Linked DNA regions of Homo sapiens: region 2 is linked to region 1. The links come from fine-mapping of genetic effects on gene expression. A gene starts in region 1. The other region holds a variant in brackets. All regions are shown on one strand. Distances are between the middles of the regions. Region 1 holds the start of TNIP1 (TNFAIP3 interacting protein 1). Region 2 overlaps TNIP1 (TNFAIP3 interacting protein 1).

What was found. PIP is the estimated chance that this variant, and not a neighbour inherited with it, causes the effect.
Region 2: its variant is fine-mapped to the expression of TNIP1 in whole blood (TOPMed, PIP above 0.99).

Annotation. Positions count from the first base shown.
Region 1 is chr5:151,078,357-151,083,879 of GRCh38, forward strand. TNIP1 (TNFAIP3 interacting protein 1) reads right to left here and starts at 2,678. Exons shown (of 18, transcript NM_006058.5): 1 at 2,524-2,678. RefSeq lists silencers at 508-557, 2,243-2,912, cis regulatory regions at 2,190-2,978, 2,478-3,247 and enhancers at 2,788-3,498, 3,213-3,272, 5,085-5,194, 5,315-5,424.
Region 2 is chr5:151,050,314-151,055,313 of GRCh38, forward strand. TNIP1 (TNFAIP3 interacting protein 1) reads right to left here. Exons shown (of 18, transcript NM_006058.5): 7 at 1,852-1,946. Among named protein-coding and RNA genes, the nearest start is that of TNIP1, 28 kb to the right of the region's middle. The variant T/C (reference allele first, on the strand shown) is at 2,783.

The DNA of each region.
Region 1 (5,523 bases):
CAGAAGAGCCATCCACCAGGCACTCTTCTCCCGCTACAGAAATACACTCGAGAGGACTAAGGAGGTCCCTGCTCACCCCCTTCTATTCTAGGAAAAGAGAAAGACAGTAAACAAATAAACACTAAAAATAACAATTTGCCAGACACTAAGTTCTATACATATGCTTTCTCATTCGCAAATAAGATTCTTTCATAGCATGATACACGTATGAGAAAAATAAAATAGTAACGTGACAGAAAGTGAAAAAAGGGGCTGCTTTGCATAAAAAGATCAGGGAAGGCCCCTCTGAGGAGCTGACATTTGAGCTGAGACTTGATCGATAAGGAAAAACCAGCCATGGGAAAAACGGGGAAAGATGTCCTGGGCAGAGGGAACAGCATGTATGAAAGCCTAAGGATGAGAACAAGCTTGGCTTGCTGGAGGGGGAAAAGCAGGCCAGCATGGTGTGACCAAATCACAGCGGGTACAGGAGTAAAACAGTAACCAGTGGGTTGGAGAGAGAGGCAGACAAACAACCTCCTACAACGCTGCCTCTCTCAAATCAGGTCGGCCTGACCCAACCAGGACATCCGGGCCCCAAGTCACAGGCAGCACTGGGGGTAAGGGTATGACTCAGACCCCACAGCTTCCTGGGGCCCCGAAAAAACTGGTGGGGGTATCCAGGGGCAGGCATCAACCTTCAGCATGAGTGCCATGCCATACCCATGGAACACCCAAGGCTGGGAGACAAACGTGGTTACATAAGCGTGTAGAACACTGCACACTCCCAGCGGCAGCTTCCAGAGGGGCATGATCACGTGCTTCCATGAAGTGCCAGTCCCTGATCACATTATTTTCCCGGGACACAGCCAGGACAGCAGCCTTGGTCAGGGGAAAGGGAACAGGGTCCAGGATTCAAGCGTTGCTAGTCTTGGGAAAGCCTTAACCTTCTCTGGGCCTCAGTTTCCTCATCTGAAAATTAAGAGTTGTTAGAAAGATTAAGTGAGGCCGGGCGGGGCGGCTCACACCTGTGATCCCAGCACTTTAGGAGGCTGAGACGGGCGGATCACTTGAGGTCAGGAGTTTGAGACCAGCCTGGCCAACATGGTGAAACTGTCTCTACTCAAAATACAAAAAAATTAGCCGGGGATGGTGGCGAGTGCCTGTAATCCCAGCTACTCGGGAGGCTGAGGTAGGAGAATCGCTTGAACCTGGGAGGCAAGTTGCCGTGAGCCGAGATCGTGCCACTGCACTCCAGCCTGGGTAACAGAGTGAGACTCTGTCTCAAAAAAAAAAAAAAGATTAAATGAGATACGGAATGTAAGCACTGTGCCTGGCACATAGTAAGCTATTAGCATTATCAGTTTTTTCACTGCCTCAGTTTCTTCTGTTGCAAAACAGAGACCACCACGGGGATGCTGAGTTTGTACTAATATTCTACCCTCCTAATACAATTCTACCCTCCTTTGTCAAGGATTTTTTTAAAACATTCTGAGTCCCCTTTTCTGACCTCTCATCAGATGCCGAATTCCCCTCTATCACACCCCATTGTTTGGAAAATGAGTAAGTGCTGATTAAATCCCATTTTGACCGTACTGTGAGAAAAAAATGATGCATTAGGAATCTACACATTTCCCTGCACTGTCATTCTGCAAGGGGGTGGGGAAGGACGTTGCTGATTCTTCTGCATCATCCACAAAAGTCCCTCCCTCCCCCTACCAAAACACAATCTCTCACCCAGTCGCACAAAATTCCCATCTGCTCCTGTACGCACAATGAATGTACAATGCACACGTGCACACAAATGTCCTACAGTGGAAAGCTCAGCCTTCATACTCCATCCCCAGAAGCACTCCTGGAAACTCATCCATCCTGCACATGCACACAAATGCCTCCAACAATGTGCATACAAAATATGTTCAACAGAAATAGTATAGTAGGAACTCTGGAGCCAAATGCCTGAGTTCATATCTGACTTTGCAACTCACAGCTGTGTGACCTCAAGCTCCAAGTACCTCGGTTTCCTAAAGTATAAAATGGAGATAATAACAATATTAATGTTTAGGATGGAAGTGACAATTAAATGAGTCTAATACACGTACAGCGTTAAGATCAGCACTTGGAAAGCGCCCAATAAAAATTATTATTTTCCTCCTCGTGACATATGTACACTGCTTCCACAACTTGATACGAAAACTCCTGACGCCGCGTAGGCAACTCGTCTCCACAGGATAGACACCCAAAGGGCCGCAGCGCCGCCCGCACCCGGAGGGTCTGCGCTCTCTACAACCGCCCCACGCCGTTCCCAGGCGTGCTACCCCGCGCAGTGCGCACGCGCGCCCCCCACCAGGCCCAGCGCCAAGCAGGGAGTAGCGGCTCAGCCCGGCTTGGCCGCTGGCGGAGACGCCCCGGGACCCCGCGCGCCGGGCCTGGGTGCACAAGCCACCTTCCCCAGCTCGCTCCCCGCCGCCACCGAGGCTCTGGACGATCTGGGCCTGGCCTCCCTTCCTCCCCTCCATCCCCGCTCCGGGCCGGCCGGCTTACCCGAGGACGGGGAGCTTGGGGACACAGCGCCCCGCTTGCTGCGTCCAGCCCCGAATCCAGGGACGGGGCAGCGGCCCGGGCAAGGCTCCGGCCCCCCGTAGCACTCCTAGGGCTCCTGGACGGGGGCAGGGCACCCGGGCCGAGGACGAGGAAGTGCCGGGGGCCTGGCCGGGCCGCCCCACCCCTGGGAAAGTCCCCGGAGACTGGCAGGCCACTCGCCCAATCGCGCCGCGCGCTCCGGGCGGGCCCGCGGCCGCCTGGGGTGGGACCGAGCGAGGTAAACACCGGCTGCCTGCGGTTCCGGGGGCCCGCGGTGTCTCTCGTCCCTTCGGCGGCCTTCCCCTCTAGGAGCGACTTCCCTGGGGCCACCGTCCCGGGCCTGCGCGGCGCCTTGCCGCACTCCCAGCGCCGGAAGCCCCTGTCGAAGGCCTGGGGCCACCTTGAAAGCCGGAATTTCAGAGCGGAGGCGAGCCACAGAGACCACCCAGCCCCTTCCTTGTGCCGAGGGGAACACAGGCCAGAACAGGGAGGGGACCTGCCAAAAGGCACGTAAGCATTTGGCCCTAAGCCAGAGCTGGAGCTCAGGCCCCCAGAGTTCCGTCCAGGGCACTCCAGGACTCTTCTTAACAAAGCTATAGAAATTCCGAGCTGAAAAGACCCATAAAGACTCTACCGCGAACATTTTTTGCTCCAGACATTGTAAAGGATTCCCAGACATCGTAAACGCTTTGCTCCAGACATTGTAGATGCTTTGCGTGCATTATTTTCTTCGCACAATCACGCTAGGGAGGTGGGTTTTACTACCTTTTCTTAAATAATATTTGAGTCACAAAAAGGTTAGATGACCTCAGTAAGGGGCTGAATCAAGATTCAAACCCGGGTGGGCAAATCCAGAGGCCGCCTTCCACCCTACCTACTTATATGTGGGCTAGATAATCCCAACAGACTGGGATTTCCTAGACCGGTAAGGAACATAAACTTGCTTTAAGGGTAGGAAAGCTTTTTAAAAGCTTATCCTTTTATTTTTAAAAAGAAAGAAAGCTAAATTTTAATTCCAAAAAGTGGAAGGTCTAACCTTGGAATAAAGAACAGCTCTTTAAACTAAATATAGCTTTATGAAAAACCTATTGCAAAAGACCCATTTCACTGGTACTGTTGAAAACTTAGTCATTGACAGGCCCTCATCCTCAAAAAGAATTAGGGGAAAGGATTTGGGGAACTGTTTAATACACACCCTCATTTTACAGAAGAGAGACCCATCAATCAACTGTGACTTCGCAATAATACACACACAGATACTTGCCCAAATTATATACCTAATCTGGGGATTCTCCTATAAGGCTTTGTAACCTCCTAGGGTTCCTTCAGTTAATTCAACGGTGTTATCAGATCTTCAAAACGATATTCATTCTAGTTTAATTATGAAAAGAATTACACTTATGCCTTGATTCAGAAGGGAGGGAGGGAGGAAGCGATGCAAACTCCAAAGCACCACTGAGTCTCACCACTGGGGGATCCTACAGAGAAACTGGGAATCCTGGCCCTGGTTTACATAGCAGCTCCCAGGCATCGTCTCCACCCATCAGGTCCGCACCTGCCAGTTTTCTTCCTGCTCTTTGTGCCTGTACTTCCCAATTCTCTTCCTGCAGGGCTCTCTTCCTATTCCCAACCCACATCTTCTCCACCCCCACCCTCTACCCACTGAAAACTAAAATCTACCTAAAAATGGCTGGTCTCTAATTACTTGCATTTTGTTTCCACACTATTTCAGCTGTTTTTATAGCATGTCTGGCCTTAGCCGGGCAGACAGTTTCATTTCTCAAAGTGTCCGCTGGGAATTCTCAAGCTTGACATAAAAAAATGGCACTCAGTCATCTTTTTGTCTGATTTCCTAGTTCTGGATCCTTTTTCTTAACAGTTCCAATTTGTGAGAAAACTCATTTATTTATAAAGTCGTGACTGCCCCCACCTCTTCCATTCTTTGAAGTCTTGGTTTGTCTTCAGGACATTCCACCCTGTTAGAGACCATGGAGCCCATAGATAACAAACCCCTATTTGACAGATAGGTAAACTGAGTCCTCTGTCTAGAAAAGGACTTACTCTAGGCCACACACATTGAGTGACACAACCAGGGCCTTGGAATCCAGGGCCTTGGCTCCCAGTCCTGTGTGCTTGGTCCACTGTACCAAGTTGTCTTTACAATGACATGATTTTTCTCACTGCCTTGCAGAAAACACCACTGTCATAAACACAGGCTATGAATTGAGCTAATGGGATTCCAATCCCTGCTCAGCCACTTACTACCTGGGTGGCCCCTCTAAGCCTCAGGCTTCTGTCTGGAAAATGGGGGATAATATACCTATTCCTCATGTGAATCATGAGGATAAATTGGACAATGCAAATAAAGCCCAAGGCTCAGCACACAGTAGGCATTCAAGAAATGATAGTGGTGTCTAGATGTGGGCTGCATGCATTGGGTAGAACTTGGCTCTTAAACTCAGCAATGCAACCTCACCAGGCGCCATCCCACCATACACATCCTCTGTGAGACCCTAGCCTCTAGGAGCATGGCAGGAATGGGAGACAGGCCCCCTAGCCTGGCACTGCCTGCTACCCTGTGGTCTGGAAGGGGATTTCCAAGTCAAGAAGCTGGGCCTGACGCTGGGAGCTGAGTGACTCAGGCAGGTGCAACCTCTTGTTCTTCCAGAGTAATGACAAGCACTCGCACAAAGCCACACCCAGAAGGAGAATCAAACTGCCTTTGTTTTGTTTTGTTTTATTTGGTTTTGTTTTAAAGCACGCAACTTCTCGATCTCCTTTCTGCTACTCCCTCCTCCACCACCCCTACTGAGGTAGCTACAGAGTCAGACCCAAATACACATTTGAAGGTAATAAAAAACATATGAAAAATCCATCTATAACCAACTTAACTCTAGAGCAAGTTCCAGAAGAGGGGTGGAGGCTGCATAATAAAAGCATTAAAAGGTAACATGTATGGAG
Region 2 (5,000 bases), 28 kb before region 1:
CTAACAGGCCCTGGGCACCTCTCTAGTTACTCGCCAGTTTCCCTCGTTAACACAGAAGGTGCAGGCTGCAGGCCCAGAGCCTTCAATGTGCAATGATCCTTAGCCTGAATTTATTAACATCCTTTCACTTTCATTGTATTTAGAGTTATCTTCTATTTATCACAGGTAATGCTGTTTTCCATTTACTCTAGTTAAAGTTGCCTTTATAATTTTAAGTAAAAAGATGAATCAAATTAAAGTAAAATTCTAAGTAACTAATAAGGCAGGTGATAGAGGAGATCATAAAATTAGTGATGTGGATTCAGGTCTGACTAAAATGTTTCTTCTTTCTTTTTTTTGAGATAGGGTCTCGTTCTGTCACCCAGGCTGGAGTACAGTGGCCCAATCTCGGCTCACCACAGCCTCGACTGCTCCTACTCAAGTAATCCTCCCACCTCAGCCACCCCCAACCTCCCCCACCACACACCCCCACCCTCTTGAGTAGCTGGGACTACAGGCACACCACCACACCCAGCTAATTTTTTTGGTATTTTTTGTTGGGGCTGGGGGAGGGGTGGTGATGTATTTCACCAGGCTGGTCTCAAACTCATGGACTCAAAGCAATCCTCCCGCCTTAACGTCCCAAAGTGCTGGGATTACAGGTGTGAGCCACAACGCCCAACCACCACTTCTTTATGTTCTATTTGCCAGCTGAGTTTCCGCTTGAAAAACCAATAAGTAAAATGACTTTCCCAAGGTCATACAGCAGAGACTTGCATTCTTGCCTTCTAATCCGTGACTTTTTTCCCCAGCTTCAGTTTCTGAATCCATGGATGGGGTCACTAGGGCTATAAAAACCCCAAAAGTGCATCCTTGGCCATCCAAAAGCAAATAAATTACACACTGATTCAAAATAGCCAGTGGCTCAGTAGTTAAACATTACTTCTGTGGCCATACTTACAAAGTTTATATTCCTTCTCTTTCTGTTGATTCTAATAAGAAACAGGAGAGGAGGGAAAAACAGAGTGGCAAGTCCTGTCTGTGACACGGGCCTTTCCTATGTGCCTGAGCCCAGCTGGTACCCACCAGATGACTCATCACCCAAACTGTCCAGGACCACAGTGCAGGCAGGAATTGTGGCCACTCACAGGATGGAGAGCAAGGAGGCCCAAGTTCCTGTTGTAAGACTCCAATCAAGTCCCTGCCTCTCCCTGGGCCTCAGTTTCCCCTCTGCACAGTGAGAGGTCTGTCTGCATGATCTCCAAGGGCTTGTCAAGCTCTGACAGTCAAGATCAGTGTTTCCCAAGGCGTGATCCTGTGCCTACCTCGTTCATAATCACAGAGACTCCTGGTGAAATGCAGGCTCCTAGGTCTTGCCTAAGACCTGTCAATTCAGAATCTTGCAAAGGAAGGAAGGGAAGGCGTATAAACTTGTAATGCCTTTCCCTGACCCTCAACCCTCAGTTAAGTCTAAGCCCCCTAGTCCAGTGGGGGAGCTCTCATGTTCTCAGGAAGACAGAGCAGGTTGGGATGGTGACCAGCAGGAGGCAGCAAAGTCCTGAGTCCTCTGGACAGCCAGTTCACCGTTAACAGGGGAGAGAGGCAAGTGCTGGAGGAGGAAGGAAGTACAATCTATGCTGACCTTCTTCTGAAGCTCTCAAGGCACTCTATACACCTCCCAAGGTGGCAAAAGGGCCAGAGAGAAAATACCAAAAGAGCCAAGGAGAAGGATCAAGAGACGTAACCTCCAAATAGGGCTCTGGGCACAGGGCCTCAGAGCCACGGTCCTCAACCCAGAAATCAGTGCTGCACACCAGCCCCTCCTCCTGCAGCCCCCACTCCTCACCCCTTCTCTGAGGGGCCTGAACTTACCGCAGCCTCTCGGCAGCCTGATCCCGCTGTTCCAGGCCCTTATCCAACTTGGCCTTCAGAGCCTCGTTCTCCTTCCGAAGCTGCTCACACAGGGTCTGTGGGGCAGGGGAACAGACAGGGTGAGGGAAAGGAGGGGCCCCTCCCAGGTGCAGGCTGAGCTAGAGGATGGTGGGGGGCCTGTAGCCACCCCAGGGCCCAACTCCTTATCCCCTTTGCCTGGCCTCACCCCATCCCTCTCTAAGGAGCTAAGCCACTTGGCCACCCACGTGTCCTCTCCCTTGGGAGCCAACTACGGAGAAGCCTGACCAAGTATCAGCCATGGGGCCTTCTGCTCCTCCAAGACAGACAGCTCCATCCCTTCTCCTTCATCCCTGCTCCCACTGCCGGGACCCCTATTCCCCACCAGCCTCCCCCAGCTGACTTCTACCCTTCTTTGAAGTCTTAGTTTAAATCCCATCTCCTCAGAGAAGTCCTCCCTGACTCCCCGATCCAGCTACATTAGGCTAACTCCGTTATCCTTGCTCACAGCCCCCCGCTTTTACGCTTCTCAGCACCTGTGGCAGATAAAGCTAAAGAACTGTTCGTGCTGCTGTTTTCTTAATATCTACCCCCTTACCCCTAATTAATTCCTGAGCTCCCGGAGGGCTGGGACCCCTAACCATCCTCTTGTTCACTGCCAGATCCCCAGCCCCCAGCTCAAAGTTTGTGGAAGGAACAACATGACTGAACAGCCAAATGAGCAAATGGACAAATGAGCAGGCGAGTCCTAGGGGGGCTGAAAGGCACACCAATTTGCAGGTGTGAGAGGTGCCCAGTGTTGCCAAGGGGAAAACCAGAAGACAAGGCATTCAGTCGGGACCTCACTATGCCCTCACGCCCTCACAATGTGGCTGTGACACTTGGTTCCTCCTCTACAAAAGAAAGACAACTG[T/C]TTCTCTTTTTTTTTTTTTTTTTTTTTTTTTTAAGACAGAGTCTCACTCTGTTGCCCAGGCTGGACTGCAGTAGCATGATCTCAGCTCACTGCAACCTCCACCTCCCAGGTTCAAGAGATTCTCCTGCCTCAGCCTCCTGAGTAGCTGGAACTACAGGTGTGTGCCACCATGCCTGGCTAATTTTTGTATTTTCAGTACAGACGGGGTTTCACCATGTTGGCCAGGCTGGTATCAAACTCCTGACCTCAAGTGATCCACCTGCCTCAGTCTCCCAAAGTGCTGGGATTACAGGCATGAGCCACCACACCTAGCCCAGGGACAACTGTTTCTTCTCTGCCTCCTCTATAGGGCTGCTGAGAGGGACAGATGAGACAGTGAGAGTGGAAGTGTCCATGAACCATCAGTCACTTGCTTATGTGCGGGGACTCATATTGGAAGCTCTGTGAACTGGGGGCATGGAAGAGGGGTCGCCAGACTCAGGACCTCACAGGCTGGGGGGAAGGGAAGGTGCTGACTAGCAATGCTAGCATACAGTGTCAGCACAGAGTTGTTCAATCTTTCCACAGATCCTCACTGAGCACCTCACCTGTGCCAGGTACATTGCTCGGTGTTTCTCCATATACTGCCTCACTGGTGCCTCACAACTTCCTCAAAGCTAAGTAACTCATCTCTATGTTAAAGGTAGGGAAACCAGGTAAAATGATACAGTCTAACAGGTGCACAGCTGCTAAGACTCATCACTGGCGGGGAGTAAAACTCCAATTGGCAGACCCCACACTGGTGTCTCTTTCCCCTGTGATGAAAGATCAGAGAAGGGAGAGAGATGGTGCCCAAAGGAGGGGACAGCCTTTGAGCTGGGCCAGGACCAGGGCCATTCACTAAACAGCCATCTGCTGCCTTCCACCTCCCAGGCCTGTTGCAGGTGGATGCAACCATGTGACTAGTTCTGGCCAACAAAAGAGGTGTAGAAGGGACAAGCATCACTCCTGGACTGGCCTACGCACAATTCTCCAGTCTCTTTTTCCTGGTAGCAGGGGCTGATGTGGATGCCTCGTATTCTAAAGGGCACCGGAAAGTTGGGCCCCTGTCTCCCTGGGACTCTAAGGAACTGTGTAGAGCAGAAACAAACCCCTGCCACACAGAATAGGAGGGAAAACTTTTGTTGTGTAACCCAGGGAGATTTCAGAGTTGTTTCATTTCTGACTCACAAAGGAGACTCTTGGGAAGGCTGAATGGAGGACACAGCCTTCAACTGGAGGTGGCTGGACAATGAGGGAGATGAGGCTTAGCAAACAGAGAACCAGCTGGGCATGGTGGCTCACACCAGTAATCCCAGCACTTTGGGAGGCTGAGGCAGGAGGATCACTTGAGCCCAGGAGTTCAACACCAGTCTGGGCAACATGGCAAAACCCTGTCTCTACTAAAAATACCAAAAAATTGGCCAGGCATAAGGGCGCATGCATGTAGTCTCAGCTATTCAGGGAACTGAGGTGGGAGAACTGAGCCCAGGAGGTCAAGGCTGTAGTGAGCTGTGGTCGCACCACTGCACTCCAGCCTGGGTGGCGGAGCAAGACCCTGTCCCCCAACACCCCTTAAAAAAAAGAAATCAAAAAATTATTGTTATGAGTCCATTCAATGCCTAGCAGAGAGCCTTATGCTATACCTGACCTTGAATATGTTTGTTTAGTGAACCAAGAAACACATCAGTGAATGAATGAGGAGGAACTGGATCAATACACCTCCACCCAGGCAGTAAAAATACCCAAGATGCCATGTCTCTGGGCGAGGCCTCCAGGGAACAGAATGGCCTGCTCCTAGTCCCTAAGGGAAGGCCAGGACAAGGCCTCACTTGCTGTCCTACCCTTGCAGTCTAGAGAGCTGTTTCCTTGGAGTCTCTGGGCCAATGCCCTGGGTGCAAACCGGCCAATGGATAGAATCATCAGAGGTCACAAAGATCATCACCTTCCATCCAAGGTGCTACGAGAGCTATGAGTTCATTTGATCATTTATTATTTTGTCCTTTCATTCATTCACCAAGTGTGTATGAAGTGCCACGAACTGGGACGCAACAGTGAATACAACAGACATGGTGCCTGCCCCCCTCAAGCTTACCTTCTAGCAGAGAGTATAAGAAAAAAAAGAGTATAAGAAAAAATGTATTAAATAAAATTATTACAAACTATGATAAGAGCTAAGAAGGAAATAAACAAGGAGGGG